Linked DNA regions of Homo sapiens. The protein of the gene in region 3 interacts with the protein of the main gene of each other region in a pairwise test. Each region holds a gene or a part of one and is shown on either strand. Other genes may lie near its edges.

The links. The genes of interacting proteins can lie anywhere in the genome.
Region 1: the proteins of KLC3 (region 3) and MBIP interact in binary tests that used the Homo sapiens proteins (3 or more experiments, as listed by UniProt).
Region 2: the proteins of KLC3 (region 3) and PEX26 interact in binary tests that used the Homo sapiens proteins (3 or more experiments, as listed by UniProt).

Annotation. Positions count from the first base shown.
Region 1 is NC_000014.9:36,297,315-36,304,283, forward strand, and holds the end of MBIP (MAP3K12-binding inhibitory protein 1), read right to left. Parts: intron 3,510-6,969; coding exon 3,471-3,509; intron 1,877-3,470; coding exon 1,769-1,876; 3' UTR 1,250-1,768; downstream 1-1,249. UniProt on the Homo sapiens protein: Inhibits the MAP3K12 activity to induce the activation of the JNK/SAPK pathway. Component of the ATAC complex, a complex with histone acetyltransferase activity on histones H3 and H4.
Region 2 is NC_000022.11:18,101,344-18,106,645, reverse strand, and holds the end of PEX26 (peroxisome assembly protein 26), read right to left. Parts: 3' UTR 1,250-5,302; downstream 1-1,249. UniProt on the Homo sapiens protein: Peroxisomal docking factor that anchors PEX1 and PEX6 to peroxisome membranes. PEX26 is therefore required for the formation of the PEX1-PEX6 AAA ATPase complex, a complex that mediates the extraction of the PEX5 receptor from peroxisomal membrane.
Region 3 is NC_000019.10:45,335,455-45,344,144, reverse strand, and holds the start of KLC3 (kinesin light chain 3), read right to left. Parts: upstream 3,396-8,690; 5' UTR 3,299-3,395; intron 1-3,298. UniProt on the Homo sapiens protein: Kinesin is a microtubule-associated force-producing protein that may play a role in organelle transport. Plays a role during spermiogenesis in the development of the sperm tail midpiece and in the normal function of spermatozoa.

The DNA of each region.
Region 1 (6,969 bases), on a different chromosome or scaffold from region 3:
TGAAATACAGTGGTAAGTCATTGGTGGAATCCAACTAGCCCCTATCTTCTTGGGAATGATTCCAATGCCTACATTTTCTATGAGGTGACCACAATTTCAGGGCTGCCACAAATGGTTTCGCAAGGTTGTGTGTACACTGCAAACTTCTTACGAAGAGGTTCGGCCCCATCTGGCCCCAGCTGACTGAGACGCCTGGTCACACTGAGTCTGGTTTAATCTCTGGAGAATATGAGCTAAGAAACACAAAACATGAGGTAAGCAGCAGTCACTGGAGTTGTGAAGTTCTAGAGCTGAGTTCAGAGTTTGCACCATAGCAGCTCAAACACAACAAGCCGAGGCTCTGAAGACAGGACTAATGAAGACAGGACTAACATGTCACTCCATGTGGGGAAGCAGAGATAAAAAGGTCTTCAGAGAAACCAGTCCACAGAAAGATAATATAGTAGGTACATAGATGACTATGTGTAAGATTTAAAAAACAAAGGCAGAGTAACAGAGACAAAAGGAGAGGGAGAGCAGAAAACAAGGTGAGTAGAGGACAGAGACAAAGAATGAGAGGCAGTCAGAGACACAGAAAGAGATTAATTGCTGGCGACTTTCTAGATCCTACAGTGTTTCACTGTACTTCCTGCAATAAAGTTCCAGATTTCTGCTCCTTTTTAGCAACAACTCTTTTCCAAGCTATTTGGTAGATTTCTGATTCTTGCAACCAAACCTTTTTTGTTTGTTTTTTAAGACAGTGTCTCACTCTGTCACCCAGGCTGGAATACAGTGCATCACTGCAGCCTTGACCTTCTGGGGTCAAGTGATCCTCCTACCTCAGCCTCCCAAAGTGCTGAGATTACAGGAGTGAACCACCAAACAATTATTGACCTGAACAACTGCTCCATGAAAGAATTTCCACATAACTGTAGCTGCATCTTTCAAATGTTTAATTTATAACTGTGGTAATGTATGTACTGCCTAATGTAACTGGGGTATTGTAAAGGGGAGGCTCTCAAAAGAGAGGTACTATAATTTCTTTGTAATATCCTAATTGCTGTCCAAAAACAGACCTGGTTTTATAATATTAGCTAACATCTACTGAGCAATTCCCTTGGGACAGACAGTTTCAAACATGCAAGATCTCACCTCTTCTTCGTAACAATCAATAAGGTAGTCTCTACTATTGTCATTCCCATTTCACAGACTGGGAAATAAGAACAAAGACAGATTAAGTAAATTGATCAAAGTCACACCGTCAAAGGGATAAAGCTGGATCTATTGTTTATTTACATGAATACTGACATCTTAAAGATTAAGAAAAACAAGTTCATACACATGCATTTAAAATTCATTTCAGTCAATAAATTTTTGTTGAATGCTTATTATATGCAAAGTACTGATTTAAACTAATAAACTGGTTAACATCAATGTTACAAATATAAAGTCCTTTTAAAGTATCAATATCAAAATAAATCTTCCTTCCTGTGGTCCACAAAAGAAAAAAGATGTACCAGCACTTGTAAATTAAGTTTTTCAATTTCCAAAATACCTCCTTTAAAACAGAAGGGAATAAATTCCAACAATGCTATTTTCAATGCATTCATTATTTCAAAACTTACTGGAATATTTGAAGATTACTTGCTGCAAGCTGGACTCATGTGAAAATAAACCTTGACTTCACAGAGAAGTCTACATTGATAAATATATATCCGTTGAATTAATAACAGTGTAAGTTACACATATGTATACAAAAAAGTAAAATGACAAGGATGAGAGGAGTTTTTCATGGAAGGTGGTGGGTTGCCATGGATTCTGCTTCTCTTGATTTTCTGAGGAGGGCTTGTTTGAGGGCACTAATTTTCTCATCAAGTTCAGCCAGTGAATAGTTCTGCTGTAAACAATAACGACACAAATTGCTGAATAAGATTCTGAAGTATCTTAATGCAGATAAAGTGCCAAATGAACTATAAATATTTAAAATATTCAAAAGCATGATCAAATGGTTTTTTTCCCTCATGAGAATAATCTTAAAACTGAGCAACTATATATGTTGACTATATCATAAATTTAAAGGCATAAAATAACAAGGCTTAAATATTTCTTTTTCTCTTTTCTAATGACTAAGCTCTCCTGAACCTTTTATACTTAGAAAGAATAAGTTAAAAAAAAAAAAAAAGCCTGATTATTAGACACTGGAGCCTATTTGAAGATGGGAGGAGGGAGAGGACTGAAAAACTGCCTATTGGGTATTATGCTGATTGCCTGGGTGACAAAATTATCTGTACACCAAACCCCCATGACATGCAATTTACCCATGTAACAAAGCTGAAAAACCCTTGAGCTTAAGTAAAAGTTGGAAAGAAGAAGAAAAATGCTAATTATACTACTACCAGGAGAAAAAAATCATTTGAGACATCAACTATCCCTTTTAATGGAAAACTTTCTATGTTGATTACTAAAGTTAACCTGAAGTGGAAAATAGTGAAGAAAATACTTCTTTTACCTTCCAATAAAAATTGGATTTATTCAAGTCTACCTATGTGAACACCCTCACTTATATATTAATATTTCTAATTTAGACACAAGTATTATGTAGTGGCTATTAGGGGGTAAAGAGAAGGGGAAATTGGGACTGAGTGCTAATAGATACAGGGTTTTGGGGGGGCAGTGATGGAAATGTTCTAGACTTAGTGGTGATGGTTGCACAACATAGTGAATATACTAATAGCCACTTTAAAATGATGAATTTTATGTTATGTGAATTGTATTTTTAAAGCAGCAACGAAGTGTTACAGTTTACTACATAAGAGAATAACTTTTAAAAACCTGATTATTCTCATAATCAATAGTAAAAAAAGTTAGTTAACTTTAAAAATAGCTGCTTAAAATACTTAGAAATTCTCTCTTGAGGGATCAACTATAATAATTTACTTCGGGAAAAAATAGCTGCTATCAAAAAACTTACTCAGAATTTTACAAGAAAAAAATATGCTACTCTTAAAAATCAGAAAGTTTTCTCCAACTTTAAATTCACATTACCACTGTTAAATTCTAGCAAAGCCTTACTATTTAAGGTTCAACTAATTAGTAAAGTAGCACTTTAGACAGGGCTGGCTGAAGTCAAACTCTGCCAAACACCCTTTTTGATCTAGGTGCTGCTAATTAGAAGTGTTCACAAAAGGAAGGGATGGGGGGAGACTGAAATTACTTGAGCACTTACTATTTTTAAGCACTTTGTGAATGACACATCCTTGTACTACTAAAAGCAGGACAAAGGTTTTATTTATTTAACCTATCTGAGTCATTCCATGCCCTTAAAATAATTTTTCTATTCAACTGTATTAGTTTATACTGCCCTTTTCTTCAGTCCTAAATTTTACCAGGGTATGACCTAAAAGCAACCATAGTAGAAACTTTTATTAATAAGAAAGGTATAAAACTAATCAAACTATTTCAGAAACCAAAATGAAAATGCAGTAACTTACTTGAGGTGGTTGAACTTTTCTTCTTTTTCCAGAAAAGCTCTAGATTAAAAAAAAAAAGGTAATGTTTAGAAAAATCTAAGCATCATTTTTTTTTCTTTATAAAATACTGTACAAATTATGTACAGCCTTGGGAACCCTGACAGAAAAAAAACCAACCAATTTACCAATACCAATTACTGTCTGTAACCAACATCTACCTTATATTCTGCAAGTTACCCTCTAAAGAGGATGACGTTAACAATATATAATAGTAATATTGCAGCAACATGCTCATCCTTGGCAATACATATTTTCCCATCAACTACCCGCTGCTAATGAGCCTGAGTGATTTCGGAAAGAGGTGCTCTGGGGATTTTCTGCTTAGTTTTTTTTCATAACCTTTCCATCCTAGGGTATTGAACAAGTGAAGTGACAACAGACAAAGGAAAAACGGAATCTGGTATATGAGGCCAAGGGGTGAAAACACACATACACACACCCTGGACTGACTATAGTAGACACTGTGGTTGTTTATGCAAGCAGCTACCTATCCACTACTTCTCTGTGTGGCCCAAGCCAATGGCTTCCCGGTCTTGTCAGTGACTGAAATGGGCATGGGTCCAGTTCTGGCCAATGAGTAAAGGAGAGGTCTGCTGGAGATTAAGAGGAGAGCTTCTGGAAAAAGCTTCCTCACATCTTTTGAGAGAAAGCCCTTAAAGAAGGCAGTTCCTCAGGATACTGCCGTATTGGGTAAGACACCTGAAAGTGCTGTAGCCATCTTGCCATCTGCCTGGGAAAGAAGTTAACACCAAGCAGAGTTAAGAGGGGAAAGAAACCTGTTTTCTCACAATTATGATTTAGCCACTGAATCAATTAAATCTGAAGCTTGTGCTACCATGGACTTCCTATTTTATAATTTACATAATGTTTAAGCCAGTTTTGAGTTCAAATTTCTTAGTTGAAGCTAACAACATTCTCACTGATCCACTAATGAGCCTTTTAAACTTTGGCCTAATGAATTCTTTCTAGACTTTTTCTTAGTTTCACACAAGCACTAGCTTTTGAATGGCAAATTAGTAAATGAGTATATTTGACAAAGAAACTGTGAATGTCCAAGACAAAATGTTCTCATGAGCATTTCTGACTACTGAGATTTTAAAGACAGCATTAAAACTCACATTTTCCTTTGTGTCAAAAGTTGATTCAAAGAACATCTAGGTATGCTTATCAAGTTACAATAAATGGGAAATCATTAAGTATTAGAATTAGTAATTAAGAAATAATAGAGCTCAGATAATTATGCTCCTTCCTTTGCCAAACCAAGCTGGATACCTGTGGTAGGGCCTATGGGCAAATAAGGAATCAATGTTTAATTTGGCGATTGATCAGTCTCCTAACTTCCTAAGAGGTGGCTTTTTATACACTTGATGCAAATATAATTGCCCTTGGCCAGGCGTGGTGGCTCATGCCTGTAATCCCAGCACTTTGGGAGGCCGAGGCGGGTGGATCAAGAGGTCAGGAGATCAAGGCCATCCTGGCTAACATGGTGAAACCCAGTCTCTACTAAAAACACAAACAACTAGCCGGGTGTGGTGGCAGGTGCCTGCAGTCCCAGCTACTTGGGAGGCTGAGGCAGGAGAATGGCATGAACCCGGGAGGCGGAGGTTGCAGTGAGCCGAGACTGCACCACTGCACTCCAGCCTGGGCGACAGAGCAAGACACCATCTTAAAAAAAAAAAAAAAAAAAAAAAAAAAATTCCCCTTGTTCTCCTAATCGTTTAACCTGTAATATATTGATAGTTTCCATGCTATTAAACAATCAGATTACTACTGTATCATAGAACCAAAGCAAGAAATATTAGAATGAGGAAAATAAGGTCATCAGTCGCTCAGTGACTTAAAAACAGTAAAATGTGGCCTTTTGGACTTGTTTTAGCTCTGAGCAGAATATTTTGATAAAAAGAACACTTAGAAATACCATATCTACCGTGGATACACTAGATTAACTTTACTGTTTGTTTTAGGTATAAGGAAATCTCAGTACAGTTCCTGACTTATGATGGCTAGATAAGGTTTTTCAAATTTACAATGCTGTGAAAGTGACAGACATTCAGTAGAAACTGTACTTCAAATGCTGAATTTTGATCTTTTCCTGGGCTAGTGACATGTGATACGATGCTCTCTTGTGATGCTGGGCAGTGGCAGTGAGCAAAGCTCCCAGTCAGCCATGGGGTATGAGGGTAAACACCCGATACTCTACAGTGTACTGTGCTGCCAAGGGACTTTCCTCAACTGTACATGATAGGCCAGTGTACACATTCTGAACATGTTTTAGGCTAGGCTAAGCTATGATGTTTGGTAGGTTAGAGGTGTTGAATGCATTTTAGACTTAATAATATTTTCAGTTTTTGATGGGTTTATTGGGACATAACCCCATCTGTATAGAAGTATAAAAGGTGGACATTTTAACAGGTTTTGGTACCTGAGAGAAAATACTTGAGAGCACAGCACACTAAAGAAAGAGCTGGAGAAAGGTAATGCAAAATTGTCTCTCCTCACCCATTATTTTACCTTACCAGGTTCCTAGTCATGCACCGCTTAATGATGGGGATATATTCTGAGAAATGTGTTAATTTTGTCATTGTGTGAACATCATAGAGTATACTTATAGAAACCTAGATGGTACACACCTAGGCTATATGGTATAGTCTATTGCTCCTAGCATATAAACCTTATGGCATGTTTCTGTATTGAATACTGTAGGCAAGTGTAACACAATGGTATATGTGTATCTAAACACGTCTCAACATAGAAAAGATACAGTAAAAATACCATACTATAATTTTATGGGATCACTGTAATATATGCAGTTGACTGTTGACTGAAACATCCTTATGCAGAGCATGACTGTCATACACACGTTCACGCACATGCACACACACATATGAATCCAGGGAACCAGTGCTCTAAGGAAACTCAAGGGTAAGGAGGCCTCTTCCATGACTGGCTTGCTTTCTTTCAGTTGTAAAAGGCAACTGATTCTATGCGTGCAGTATCTAAAATGTTTTTCTTCCCTTCTAGTCCCAGAGCCCTGATTCAGACCTTCATTTCTCTCTGGCTTGGATAATGACATGTTTCCTAAACTAGTTTCCTTGACTCCAATTTCTCTCCAACTCAGACTTCATAATGCCACCAGACAGGGACCTAAATTACAAGTTTCTCTCTTTCTCTAAAACTTAATTGTGCTCCAATGATACTAGAAGTGCAAACTGGTTAGTGTGACCTTCAAGGCCCTCTGAAATATGTTTACAATCTAATTTTCTAGCTGAATCCAGTTGTTCACTCATGCTTCAGACCCACCACACGTTCACACGCACATGGCCTGTGTACATGATGTTGACCTGATTTTCAGCATTCCCCTCCCCCGATACTTCCCTTAAGAACCAGGAGTTACTGTTACAGACTAAAAATTACTCTCAGTCAGTGCTTTGAACAAAGTTAACACACCTTCAAAGTCCAA
Region 2 (5,302 bases), on a different chromosome or scaffold from region 3:
CTGGGTCTCAGGCTTCAGACAGACTGAAACCACATCTTCAGCTCTCCTGGGTCTCAGGCTTCAGACTCAGACTGGAACTACGTCTTCAGCTCTGCTGGGTCTCAGGCTTCAGACAGACTGAAACCACATCTTCAGCTCTCCTGGGTCTCAGGCTTCAGACTCAGACTGGAACCACGTCTTCAGCTCTCGTGGGTCTCAGGCTTCAGACTCAGACTGGAACCACGTCTTCAGCTCTCGTGGGTCTCAGGCTTCAGACTCAGACTGGAACCACGTCTTCAGCTCTCGTGGGTCTCAGGCTTCAGACTCAGACTGGAACCACGTCTTCAGCTCTCGTGGGTCTCAGGCTTCAGACTCAGACTGGAACCACACCATCAGCTCTCCTGGGTCTCAGGCTTCAGATTCAGACTGGAACCATGTCCTCAGCTCTCCTGGAACTCAGGCTTCAGACTCAGACTGGAACTACGTATTCAGCTCTCCTGGGTCTCAGGCTTCAGACTCAGACTGGAACCACACCATCAGCTCTCCTGGGTCTCAGGCTTCAGACTCAGACTAGAACCATGTCCTTAGCTCTCCTGGATCTCAGGCTTCAGACTCAGACTGGAACCACGTCTTCAGCTCTCCTGGGTCTCAGGCTTCAGACTCAGACTGGGACCACGTCTTCAGCTCTCATGGGTCCCAGGCTTCAGACTCAGACTGGAACTATGTCTTCAGCTCTCCTGGGTCTCAGGCTTCAGACAGACTGGAACCACATCTTCAGCTCTTCTGGGTCTCCAGCATAACCACTGCAGGTCCTGGGTTTCCCAGCCCCTATAATTGCATGAGCCAATTCCTTATAACTCTCAAGATACCACCTATTGGTTCTGTTTCTCTGGAGAACCCTAGTACAGTCCCCTTTTTGTAGATGAGAAACTGAAGTTAAGCCTAGGCTGTTTATGAAAAAACAACCACCCATATGATTTAGGCTTTTTAAAGAAATTATCCACATCTACTGCATTCCAGTTACTATGTGTGAGTGAAGTTCTTCTTGTATGAATTTTAATGCTGTGGGGCCATATAACCAAATATAATTACAGTTATGGCCTAAATAGTTGAGCCACATTCATTAGAGCAGGAGGTAAGATAATTTCTATCAATCACCCAGGAAAAGACTCTTGGCGATATTCATTATCTGTTCAATATTCCCCAACACTGAGCACTTTCTATATGCCAAACACTGTGCTAATGGCTTTTATTCCTCACAACAAACCTCTGAAGTTAAATTTTTATTATCCTCATTTTACAAATGAAGAATCAGAAACATAGAAACATTAACTCTCATTCCTGATCACATAACTGGTAAGAGCTAGAGCTGGGCTATGCTTCAGAGAGTCTGGCTCCAGAGCAGAGCTCAACTGGATCTGGAAGGGCAAACCTTTCATAGAGAGGCTTGTCCTTGTTCTCTTAGGTTAGACTTCAGAGTTCCAATATCCAGGATGCTGCTCCAGGATGGTGGGTGTTACAGATGGAGGTCATGATGTTGAGGGAGGCTGGGAGCCCAGAGGATGAGACACAAGAAAGATCTCTTCATTTCCAGGCACCCCATTGCTGGGGTGAGCCCATGAAGTCCAGAGAGCAAACGATATCTTACCATTAGATTATCTAGATTCAGGTACTTGTCATATGTATTTAACTTTGGTTAGCCCCAAGTACCTTACATACATTCACCCATGTGTCTCAGATGCTGCAGGGGATTAAGGGAAGTTGAGGGTGAACCATTTTGGCCACTGGATCACAAACAAATTGGCTCGCCTTTAAGGTTTACATGGCTGCAGCAGCCGCAATCAAGAGATCACCAAAGAGGAGGTGAATCATGGGACAAATTCCCCTGGGAGGGGTGGAGCTTTAAACCAACATCAGGCAGATGCAAAGAACTCAGCAGAAACAGGAGGCAGTGAGAACAGGAGGCAGTGAGAACAAGAGGCAGTGAGCACTGGGAGCGGGAGTCAGTGACAGACTGTGCAGAGAACACTGAGGCTGGGAACTCAGGAAAACTCACCTCCTGTAAACAGGAGGAAAGGCCAGCCTGTGGCCTCGTGACATCCAAGGCTCTGTCACAGATGGGTAACCACCTTCCTCCGCTACCAGCTCCTAAAAGAACACCTAAAGAGGCGGGTGCGATGGCTCATGCCTGTAATCCCAACGCTTTGGAAGGCTGAGGCAGGTGGACCACCTGAGGTTGGGAGTTCGAGACCAGCCAGACCAACATGGAGAAACCCCGTCTCTACTAAAAATACAAAAATTAGCCAGGCGTGGTGGTGCATGCCTGTAATCCCAGCTACTCAGGAGGCTAAGGCAGGAGAATCGCTTGAACCTGGGAGGTGGAAGTTGTGGTGAGCCGAGATCGCGCCATTGCACTCCAGCATGGGCGACAGAGCGAAAAAAAGAAAAAAAAGAGCACCTAAAGGTCTGTGTGGGATAGACTAGGAAAGATGAAGCCGTCGGTCATCCCCTCCTGCTCTTGGTATTGTGTAGATGATTAACTGTTCCCCTTTCTGGGCATTTTCCTCCTAACCAACACTGAAACAACTGGTTGAATAGTCTCATTTTTTCCAATCACTTCACATATTGCTATGAGTATTGCAAAGTACCCAATCTTTCTGGACCACGTCCTGGCAGTATGTTGGAAGAGCAGAAAAACTGATCTCTATCAATGTTGTAGATCCACTTTCAAAAACCAGCCCAAGAGAAAAACCCAGAAAGAAAACAACTACTATCGTCTTAACTGTTCTACTCAGCCCTTGGTGATTTCACAGCACTTTCATATGCAATCTGTTTACAGCTATGTTATTCACAATAGCAAAAAGTTGGTGGTGGTGCATGTGGGTGTTGACCGGGCTGGGCCAAGAAGCCTCCTCCGGGCAGGCTGCCAGGCTCTCACTGTGGCTGTGGCTCTGTATGGGACAGAGACGGGGCTGAGCTGGCCGGGCTGTGGGCAGGGTGGAGGGCCACCAGCCAAAGGACAGTTGGAGGAATCGAGCTTCATGCTGTCCTTCTCTTCTGCCTCTGATACAGAATTTGATGTTGTGGTTGGATATATAGTACACATTATCATGGATGACATGTTCCGGTTATTATAGAGAAATTTTGTGGACAAGTATTACCAGGAGTTTGAAGACATGGAAGAAAATCAACTCACCTACATGCCTGCTTTTTGATAAATAATATTTGTACATATTATTGAAGTAGATGTGACATTTCATTACATGCATAGAATGTGTAGTGATCAACTCAGGGTATCCAGGATACCCATGACCTTGAGTATTTCTCATTTCTATGTGTTGAGAACATTTCAAATCCTTTATTCCGTCTATTTTGAAACACCCAATACAGTGTTAACAATGGTCACCCTATTCTGCTATCAAGCATTAGAACTCACTCCTTCTATCTATGTTTGTGTCCATCAAGCCACCTCTTCATCCCACATACACACCCTGCCCAGCCTCTAGTAATTGTCATTCTACTCTCTACCTCCATGAGATTAACTTTTACATGCCTTTTTTTTTTTTTTTTTTTTGAGATGCAGTCGCACACTGTCGCCCAGGCTGGAGTGCAATAGCACGATCGCACGATCTCGGCTCACTGCCACCTCTGCCTCCTGGGTTCAAGCAATTCTCCTGCCTCAGCCTCCTGAGTATCTGGGATTACAGGCACACGCCACCATGCCCAGCTAATTTTTTGTATTTTTAGTAGAGATGGGGTTTCACCGTGTTGGCCAGGCTGGTCTCGAACTCCTGACCTCGTGATTCGCCCGCCTCAGCCTCCTAAAGTACTGCGATTACAGGTGTGAGCCACTGCGCCCGGCTACATGCCTATTTTTAATAAATGTATTTACTTGACAGAAAAGTATCCTGAAGGACACCTACTGGAGCGGATTGCTGGATTTAGCACATGGCCTTCACAATATTAGGCATGATAAAGATGAAGGGGCTGGTGCCCTTCATCAGACAGAATTTGATGCTGTGGTTGGATATGTAGCAGACATTACCATGGATGACATGTTCTGGTTATTATAGAGAAATTCTGTGTACAAGTACTACCAGGAGTACTTGGTGCCATAGGCCGGGGACTAGACCTAAGCGATAGTTTAGCGGTGACTTTGTTGAGCAAATCATCTTCTATGCCAGCTTCCCCGAACAAGCTGTGGCACTAGATCCCACCTCCAGGCAAGGAAGAGGATCATCCTGGATGTCACCAGCCCACTGGCTTGGAGAGGCTGCAGCTATTGAGGATAGAACAATACATCTTGGAAAGACTGACTGTTCTGCAACTCATCATTCATGTTAAGTATTAAGGGTCAAAAACAAATGGCTTGATGTGTTTCTCCTGAAACACCTTCTTGTGTTTAGTAACCCTAGTACTCCTCCCATCTCTCAGGTGCTTTTGAATCAGACTGCTGTGGGGCAAACCCATGCCCAGCATTCCACCTGAGGCCCTTCTGCCAGCATACATTCAGTGTGTCAACAGTGTGGAATAACCCACTATCATGAGTCCTCTTTGTCCCAGCAGCTTTGGCATGAACTTTTTTTTCTTTTAAATGAAGAGACGCACATTTTAGTGATTTTCCTTGTGAAATTGCAAAGACTAGAAGAAAGTTAGACACTGACATCTCCATACCTGAATCTCTACCCACTCCATCTCACCCACCACCTGCTTCACAAACTTCCTACTCAACCACCTAAGATGAGACTTCTGGGCAATGTCTCCTCAGCCATCATCTGCCGTGATGTGTCACCCTCAATCATGCCAGGCGTTGTCGAATTCTCCATTCACTGGCTCCTCAATAGCTTTAAAGGCCCCAGACCTCAGGTTAATGACCAAGGAAATTGCACCATCCATCAGAGAGCTGACTTGCCCACATGCAGGATGAGGCCATTGTAATGCCAGGTCTTAAAGGAGAGGGTGATTTCATCACTGCTGCTCTGGATCGGGTTTTGACACAAGTCATTGCACAGCTACTCTGAGCCTTGGAAGGTGGCCACATTCTTTTCTTGATCCTGGGCATTAGGGAAGGGTCCATACAGGTGGTCATACTTAGGCTGTGTCTTGAAGTATGAGTAAGAGATCACTTTCTGCAGCAGTGCTCCAGCCTCCAATGAGGGTGCCACATGCTCCTTCTCCTCGCTACTCCCCACCAAGCAGTTGAGGGAAAAGGGTCAGAGGAAGGTCAAAATCAGCATGAGTCTTTTCCTGCACTGATAGCTCTTTTTCACACAGGTCAGTTTCCAGTCCTTCAACCTCAATGGGGTTTTTGACTGGGACTATT
Region 3 (8,690 bases):
GAAACACAATGTAGGCCGGGTGCGGTGGCTCACACCTGTACTCCGAGCACTTTGGGATTTTGGCTGAGGCAGGAGGATCACTTGAGCCCAGGAGTTCAAGACCAGCCTGGGAAACATAGTGAGACCCCATCCCTACAAAAATAAAAATAAAAAAATTAGCTGGGTGTGGTGATGGTGTACCTGGAGGCTGAGGTAGAAGGATTGCTTGAACCCAGGAGGTTGAAGCTGCAGTGAGCCATGATAGTGCCACTGCACTCAGCCTGGGTGAAAGAGTAAGACCCAGTCAAAAAAGAAAGAAAGAAAGGACAGCATAATATACATTCTCCTCTTAGAACACGCACTCACTTTCTCCTATTAAATATACAACTCAGTAAAAACATTTACATTTTCCTTTTAGAAATACAACCTAAGACAACACACTGACTCAGGCACACACATATACTATTCTTTCAAAAACAATCTGTATACACTCCCAACACACAGGTATATTCTCTTAGAAATAAAAACCAAGCCTGGGCGCGGTGGCTCACGCCTGTAATCCCAGCACTTTGGGAGGCCGAGGTGGGTGGATCAGTTGAGGTCAGGAGTTTGAGACTGGCCTGGCCAACATGGTGAAACCCCGGCTCTACTAAAAATACAAAATTAGCCAGGCATGGTGGTATGCGCCTGTAGTCCCCAGCTACTCATGAGGCTGAGGCATGAGAATTGCTTGAACCTGAGAGGCGGAGGTTGCAGTGAGCCAAGATCACGCCACCACACTCCAGCCTGGGTGACAAGAGCAAAACTCCGTGTCAAAAAGTGATAATATTATTTAAAAAAAAGAAAGAAAAGCCAACCCACGCAGAAACTAACTCTGTCTCTCCCACTCCCCAAATCACTCACATTCAGACCATCTCCTTGCACTTGACCGTGACACTCGCTGTCCCCCGAACTCACATGGCTCCCAAGCAGCCAACTCCCCACAATGTGCCCAACGCACCTCCAGATGCACACACTCCCAAGATTCACTATGGATCCCTCGCCAGTTTCCCTACTTCCTCTCCCTCCCACTCCAGGCCTGGCCAGCAGGGACTCCCACACCTACACGCCATGCACACACAAGTACTCAGATTCAGCTCCACTGTCGGAACAGAGAGCTGTGAATACGCGTGGAGGGATGCCACGTTCTCGCACACTTCACTCAAGCCACTGCATCCACCATAAGCAGCCCAGCGGTTTTTGCACATGTTGTACATGCACGATCACATACAGTAAGGGTCCTGTACGTTTTGTGCACCACAGACTTGATCGTCATTGATCTCTCCCTCTCTCTAGATATATGTATGTGTATATATGTGATGTATATATCAACCTTTAAAAAATTTAATTTTATTTTTTTGAGACTGAGTCTCGCTCTGTTGCCCAGACTGGAGTGCAATGGCATGATGTTGGCTCACTGCGATCTCCACCTCCCCAGGTTCAAGCGATTCTCCTCCCTCACCCTCCCAAGTAGCTGGAATTACAGGTGCCCGCCACCACACCTGGCTAATTTTTGTATTTTTAGTACAGACGGGGTTTCACCATGTTGGCCGGGCTGGTCTCAAACTCCTGACCTCAAATGATCCACCCGCTCCCCCCTTGGCCTCCCAAAGTGCTGGGATTACAGGCGTGAGCTACCGCGCCCAGCCAACCTTTTTTTAATTTTTAAAAAACTAAACTATGCCCAGCTAATTTTTGTTTTTGTAGAGACGGGGTATCACCATATTGCCCAGGCTAGTCTAGGATTCCTGGGTTCAAGCAATCCCCGCCGCCTCAGCCTCCCAAAGTGTTGAGATTACAGGTATGAGCCACTGCACCCGGCCAATCTGTGTGCTTGTGTATATCACACCATACCTATTCTCACACCTCACACACAAACATCATAAATGGTTGAACTCACAACCACACAGGTTCAAGAGTCATCCTGACAACCACAACCATTCTTCACACAATTTTGCCGATGTAAAACCTCCCTCTATAACCTCAGACACAGCCTTACACACACCACTCCACAGCCAGATTGACAACCACAGCAACAAACACGGCTCAACCACAGCCATCCAGCACTCGGGCTGTGTCCCAGACACACAGCAGCTCCCACACTCACACAGAGCCCCGGGTGCACAACCGCACAGCTGATAATCATAGGCACAGTCCCACACACTGATCCCTGACGCGGACCCCCTTTTCCATCCTGTCACCCGCTTGGAGGAGCATCCCACTTAAATGTCCACGTCTCCACTCCCATCTCCCACAAACTCTCCGTTGCACACCACTGCCAGCCACGGTATCAATGCAGATCACACACCCTCTAGTTCCTCTCTACACACACACACACACACACACACACGCACACACGGCTTCACACACCTCCACACCTCACTCATCCAACCCCAAGGTTCCACGCGCACCGTCCCATGAAACAGCTCCACTTCTGGACACAGTTCCGCCCAGCCCCATGCACCATCACAGTGACACACAATCAAAAGTCAATCATAGTCACCTATCACTGATCCAGTGCCACACTGTCCACCACACGCGCGCGCGCACACACACACACACACACACACACCAACAGGCAGAAAGACAACCACAGCCGCACAGCCTCTTGGTCAATCACACCTAATCCTACAACCAGTTCCACTCTCTGCCATGAAGACAGCCACACACACAGCCACACACATGCACATCAGGCCAAGCAGAAAGTCGACTACAGTCGCACTAGCTCTTGGTCGTAAAGTGCTACCAGCAATCCAATTCTACACACACACCATTCCAGTCAGAGGTCGCCCACGTTTTCACATTGCTAAAAGTGTCACATCATACACACAGTCCCATCACAGGGTTACACGGACAGTCGCTTTCACCCTCATACCCACAGCCTGACACACTCTCTTACACACACGCAAAGCCACACACACACACACACACACACACACAAACACAGGCAGGCAGGAGACTCCCATCGTGGCCCAGCCCCGCAAGCCGCACCAACTTACCCTGGCCTGCCCAGCCCCGCGCACCAGGCTCACCCGCAGTCACAAGGGCCCCCTCCCTCTCCCTCCCAGGCCCCGCCCCGTCCTCGCTGTTTACCTGCGCTGGGGTGGGGGGCATGGGACCCCAGCCAGGCCTCCAGATCCCGGAGAGCCCCAGGACGGGGCAGGGGGCATCCGGGAGCCCCAAGGCCCTTCCCCGTCTCAGGGCGAGCGGGCCCAGGGTTGCCCCCGCCCCCCATCATCGCGGCTCTCCGAGAGTCCCGCGCCCCACTCCCGGCACCCACCTGACCGCGGGCGGCTCCGGCCCCGCTTCGCCCCACTGCGATCAGTCGCGTCCCGCAGGCCAGGCACGCCCCGCCGCTCCCGCTGCGCCGGGCGTCTGGGACCTCGGGCGGCTCCTCCGAGGGGCGGGGCAGCCGGGAGCCACGCCCCCGCAGGTGAGCCGGCCACGCCCACCGCCCGTGGGAAGTTCAGCCTCGGGGCTCCAGCCCCGCGGGAATGGCAGAACTTCGCACGCGGAACTGGTAACCTCCAGGACACCTCGAATCAGGGTGATTGTAGCGCAGGGGCCTTGGCCAAGCTAAAACTTTGGAAACTTTAGATCCCAGACAGGTGGCTTTCTTGCAGTGCCTGCCCCAGAGCCTTTTCCTTGGTTGTGTGGCCTGCTTCGATCTCTCTTCCCACAGATCTCATCGTCTTTAGGTCTCTTCTCAAAGGCCACCTCCTCCGGCAGGCCTTCCCTGATTGCCCCCTTCTAAATGGCACCCTTCCACCAAAACATTACATACTCCTCTTGATTTTGTTCACAAAACTTTTCAGGGCCTAAAATTACCTTATTTATTTATTGAGAGGGAGTCTCGCTCCGTCACCCAGGCTGGAGTGCAGTAGCGCGATCTCGGCTCACTGCAACCTCCACCTCCCAAGTTCAAGCGATTCTCCCATCTCAGTCTCCCGAGTAGCTGCGACTACAAGTGTCTGCCACCACGCCCGGCTACTTTTTATATTTCTAGTAGAGACGGGGTTTCGCCATGTCGGCCAGGCTGGTCTCAAACTCCTGACCTCAAGTGATCCTCCCGCCTCGGCCTCCCAAAGTTCTGGGATTACAGGAGTGAGCCACCGCCCCCGGCCCCTAAAGTTATTTTATATAACATATATCACATCATTATGTTATGTTATATATTATGTTATTGGCAAGGGAATGTGATATCTAAGAATTGGGCTCAGGGTTCAAATTTGATTCCGGCACTTACTTGCTGTGCAGGCCTTGGGCAAGTAACTTAACCTCTCTGTGCCTCAGTTTCCCTAGTCAATAAAATATAAATAGTCTAAGGCTTTGAGAATTGAATGTTAACTAATACAGGGACAGTACTTTTTTTTTTTTTTTTTTTTTTTTGAGACACAGTCTCGCTGTGTTACCCAGGCTGGAGTACAATGGCGCTATCTTATCTTGGCTCACTGCAACTCCTGGGTTCAAGTCATTCTCCTGTCTCAGCCTCCCGAGTAGCTGGGATTACAGGCGCCCGCCACCATGCCCAGCTAATTTTTCCATTTTTAGTAGAGACGGGGTTTCCCCATGTTAGCCAGGCTGATCTCGAACTCCTGACCTTAGGTGATCTGCCCACCTCGACCTCCCAAAGTGCTGGAATTACAGGCGTGAGCCACCGCGCCTGGCCAGGACAGTACTTTTATCAGGGCCTCGCAAATAGAAAGTACTTAGTAAATACTCGCTACTGACTGTATATTATGGGTTCACTTTTTCTCCTCTACTATATAAGCTCTGAGGGCAGGGCTGTATATTGTCAGCACTGTTATCTTCAGCAAGAGCTTGATGCAAAGTCGGTGCTCAATAAATTGTGACTGAATGAAGGAATCAAGTCCTAGAATAGTAAGCTGGCCAAAGCTGGGAGGACACGATTCTAATATAACTTGAGGACGGCGCAGTGGCTCACACCTGTAATCCCAGCACTTTGGGAGGCCGAGGGGGCTGGATCACTTGAGGTCAGGAGTTCGAGACCAGCCTGGCCAACATGGTGAAACCCTATCTCTACTAAAAATACAAAATTAGCCGGGTGTGGTAGCGCACGCCTGTAATCCCAGCTACTTGGGAGGCTGAGGCAGGCGAATCGCTTGAACCCCAGAGGCAGAGGTTGCAGTGAGCCGAGATCACACCATTACACTCCTGCCTGGGCAACAAGAGCGAAACTCCATCTCAAAAATAAATAAATGCATACATACATACATGGCTCAATGCGCGCGGTACCCCGGTCACTACACTATGAAATGCTTCCAGCAGAGGGCGCTGCTGGTCCGTGGACCAAACTCCAGACTCGGCACAGCTCCGCGCTCCCTCCGAATTGCAGCCAACGTGCCCTCTACTTCCCTGTTGTCTGAGCCCCAGTGCTGATGCTTCCTCCTCCAGGAAGCCCTTTCTTATTTCCCAGGTTTCCAGGCTCTTGGGCTCCCACATCCAGCCCTGCCAACTCTGGGTCATCAGTGTGGGGAGACAGGTCAGTCCCATATTAGACTATGAGCCCCAAGAAGGGAGGAGGCGGCCAGGGGCCATGTCAGTCTCCACTGTGTCCCCAGTGCCACCTAGCACAGGCCCAACGCAGAGAAGGCATTTGGGAGAATAGGTGCTGATTGAATCATGGAAATAAAAATTCAAACTCATATCCTAACTACTCCAGCATTTTTTTTTTTTTAAGACAGTCTTGCTCTGTTGCCCAGGCTGGAGTGCAGTGGCACGATCTTGGCTCATTGTGTAACCTCCGCTTCCCAGGTTCAAGCGATTCTCCCGCCCCAGCCTCCCAAGCAGCTGGGATTACAGGCACCCACCATCATGCCTTGCTAATTTTTATATTTTTGTAGAAATGGAGTTTCCCATGTTGGCCAGGCTGGTCTTGAACTCTTGACCTCAGGTGATCCACCCACTTCGGCCTCCCAGAGTGCTGGGATTATAGGCGTCAGCCACCATGCCCGGCCTACTCTAGCTTTTTTAAAAGACAGGTGTCACTCTGTCACCCAGGCTGGAGTGCAGTGGCAGTCGTAACTCACTGCAGCCTTGATTTCCCGGGTTTAAGCAATGCTCCCTCCTCAGCCTCCCAAGTCCCAGGTAGCTGGGACTACAAATGCACCACCATACCCAGCTACTTTTTGTTGTTTTTTGTAAAGATGGGGGTCTCCCTATATTGCCCAGGCTGGTTTTGAACTCCTGACCTCAAGCGATCCTCCTGCCTTGGCCTCCCAAAGTCCTGGGATTACAGGCATGAGCCACTGTGCCAAGCTCCAGCTATTTCTTTCTTTCTTCCTTTTTTTAATTAAGACAGCATCTCACTGGGAGTGGTGGCTCATGCCTATAATCCCAGCACTTTGGGAGGCCTAGGAGGGCGGATCACCTGAGATCAGGAGGGCGGATCACCTGAGATCAGGAGGGCGAGACCAGCCTGACCAATATGATGAAACCGTGTCTCTACTAAAATTACAAAAATTAGCCGGGCTTGGTGGCATGGGCCTGTAATTCCAGCTTGTCAGGAGGCTAAGACAGGAGAATCACTTGAACCAGGGAGGCGGAGGTTGCAGTGAGCCAAGATGGCGTCATTGCACTCCAGCCTGGGCAACAAGAGCAAAACTCCATCCCCTAAAAAAAAAAAAAAAAAGACAGTGTCTCTGTTGCCCAGGCTGGAGTGCAATGGCATGATCTCGGCTCACTGAAACCTCCATCTCCCGGGTTCAAATGATTCTCCTGCCTCAGCCTCCAGAGTAGCTGGGATTACAGGTGTGCACCATCACGCCCAGGTAATTTTTATATTTTTAGTATAGACAGGGTTTCGCCATGTTGGCCAGGCTGGTCTCGAACTCCTGACCTCAGGTGATCTACCCGCCTCGGCCTTCCAAAGTGCTAGCTCCAGCTATTTCAACAGCACAGGATCGAGGGGCAGCAGAGCCTTCCCCCTGCCCCCCATTTTTTTGGCCTCACGACGCTGGACATTGGATCTGGATCTGCTACACGCTTACCACAGGCAGTGCAGGGACTGGAGCCAGGCCAGCAGGGACAAATCTCAGCTGGGTCATTTGCTAGCTGTGTGACCCTCTGAGCCAAGAAGTAACCTCTCTGGACCTCAGATTTCTAGTCTGTCAAACGAGACTCACAGGGTACCCTACTTTAAGGCTGTGGTGAGGATTACTGTATAATCCCCCAGAAAAGGCTTAGAACAGGGTAGCACCCGGTAAATACTATGTGTGTTGGGGGAGGGCAGGGGATGGAGCCGGGCGGGGAGCCAGGCAGATCTAGGTTTAAATCCTGGCCCTGCCATTTCTGTTCCATGTAAACCGGGGGAACAATGATCTCTGGCTGAGCCTCTGTCTCCTCGTCTAGTAAAATGGGGATGATCACACTCATCACACAGCATTGAGGTGAGACTTAAATGAGATAAAGATTGAAAGAAGAAGAAAGTGTTAACTAAGGAAAACCTTTCTTGCTTTTGTTGCTGCTGTTGTTGTTTTTGTTTTTTTGAGACGGAGTCATGCTCTTTCTCCCCGGCTGGAGTGCAGTGGCACAATCTCGGCTCACTACAACTTCCGCCTCCCAGGTTCATACAATTCTCCTGCCTCAGCCTCCGGAGTAGCTGGGACTATAGGCACGTACCGCCATGCCCAGCTAATTTTTGTATTTTTAGTAGAGACGGGGTTTCACCGTGTTAGCCAGAATGGTCTTGATCTCCTGACCTCGTGATCTGCCTGCCTCGGCCTCCCAAAGTGCTGGGATTACAGGCGTGAGCCACCACACCTGGCCAGGAAAACCTTCCTTTAGGCCAGCGGTGTTCCAAGTACTTTTGCACAACGCCAACAATGGCTGATGTTTGAGTTCTTACCCCAGACTGGCCCTGTGCCAACTCCTATATACAAATTGTTAATCTTCACACCAGCTGCGATGATTCGCTCCATTCCACAGGTGAAAAAGATGAGGCACAGAGAGGCTGAGTAACTTGTCTTAGGTCACACAGCCAAGGAGTAGCAGAGCCCCAGAATCTTTGTAGCTGACCCCCCAAGGTAGGCACTATTACCAGCCCCACCTAAAAATGAGGAAACTGGCCGGATGTGGTGACTCATACCTGTAATCCCAGGGCTTCAGGAGGATTGCTGGAGCCTAGGAGTTTGAGACCAACTTGGGGAACATAGGATGAACCTATCTCTACAAAAAAAAATTTATTTATTTATTTTTTTTGAGATAGAGTCTTACTCTGTCGCCCAGGCTGGAGTGCAGTGGCGTGATCTTGGCTCACTGTAACCTCCGTGCCCTGGGCTAAAGCAATTCTCCTGCCTCAGCCACCTGAGTAGCTAGGATTACAGGAACCACACCTGGCTAATTTTTTTGTATTTTTAGTAGACATGGGGTTTCACCATGTTGGCCAGGCTGGTCTCAAACTCCTGACCTCAAGTGATCTGCCCACCTCAGCCCCCCAAACTGCTGGGATTATGGGCGTGAGCCACCGGGCCCAGCCTGTTTATTTTTTTGAGATGGAGTCTTGCTCTGTCGCCCAGGCTGGAATGCAGTGGCACGATATCAGCTCACTGCAACCTCCGCCTCCTGGGTTTAAGCAATTCTCCTGCCGCAGCCTCCTGAGTAGCTGGGACTACAGACATGCGCCACCACCCCCGGCTAATTTTTGTGTATTT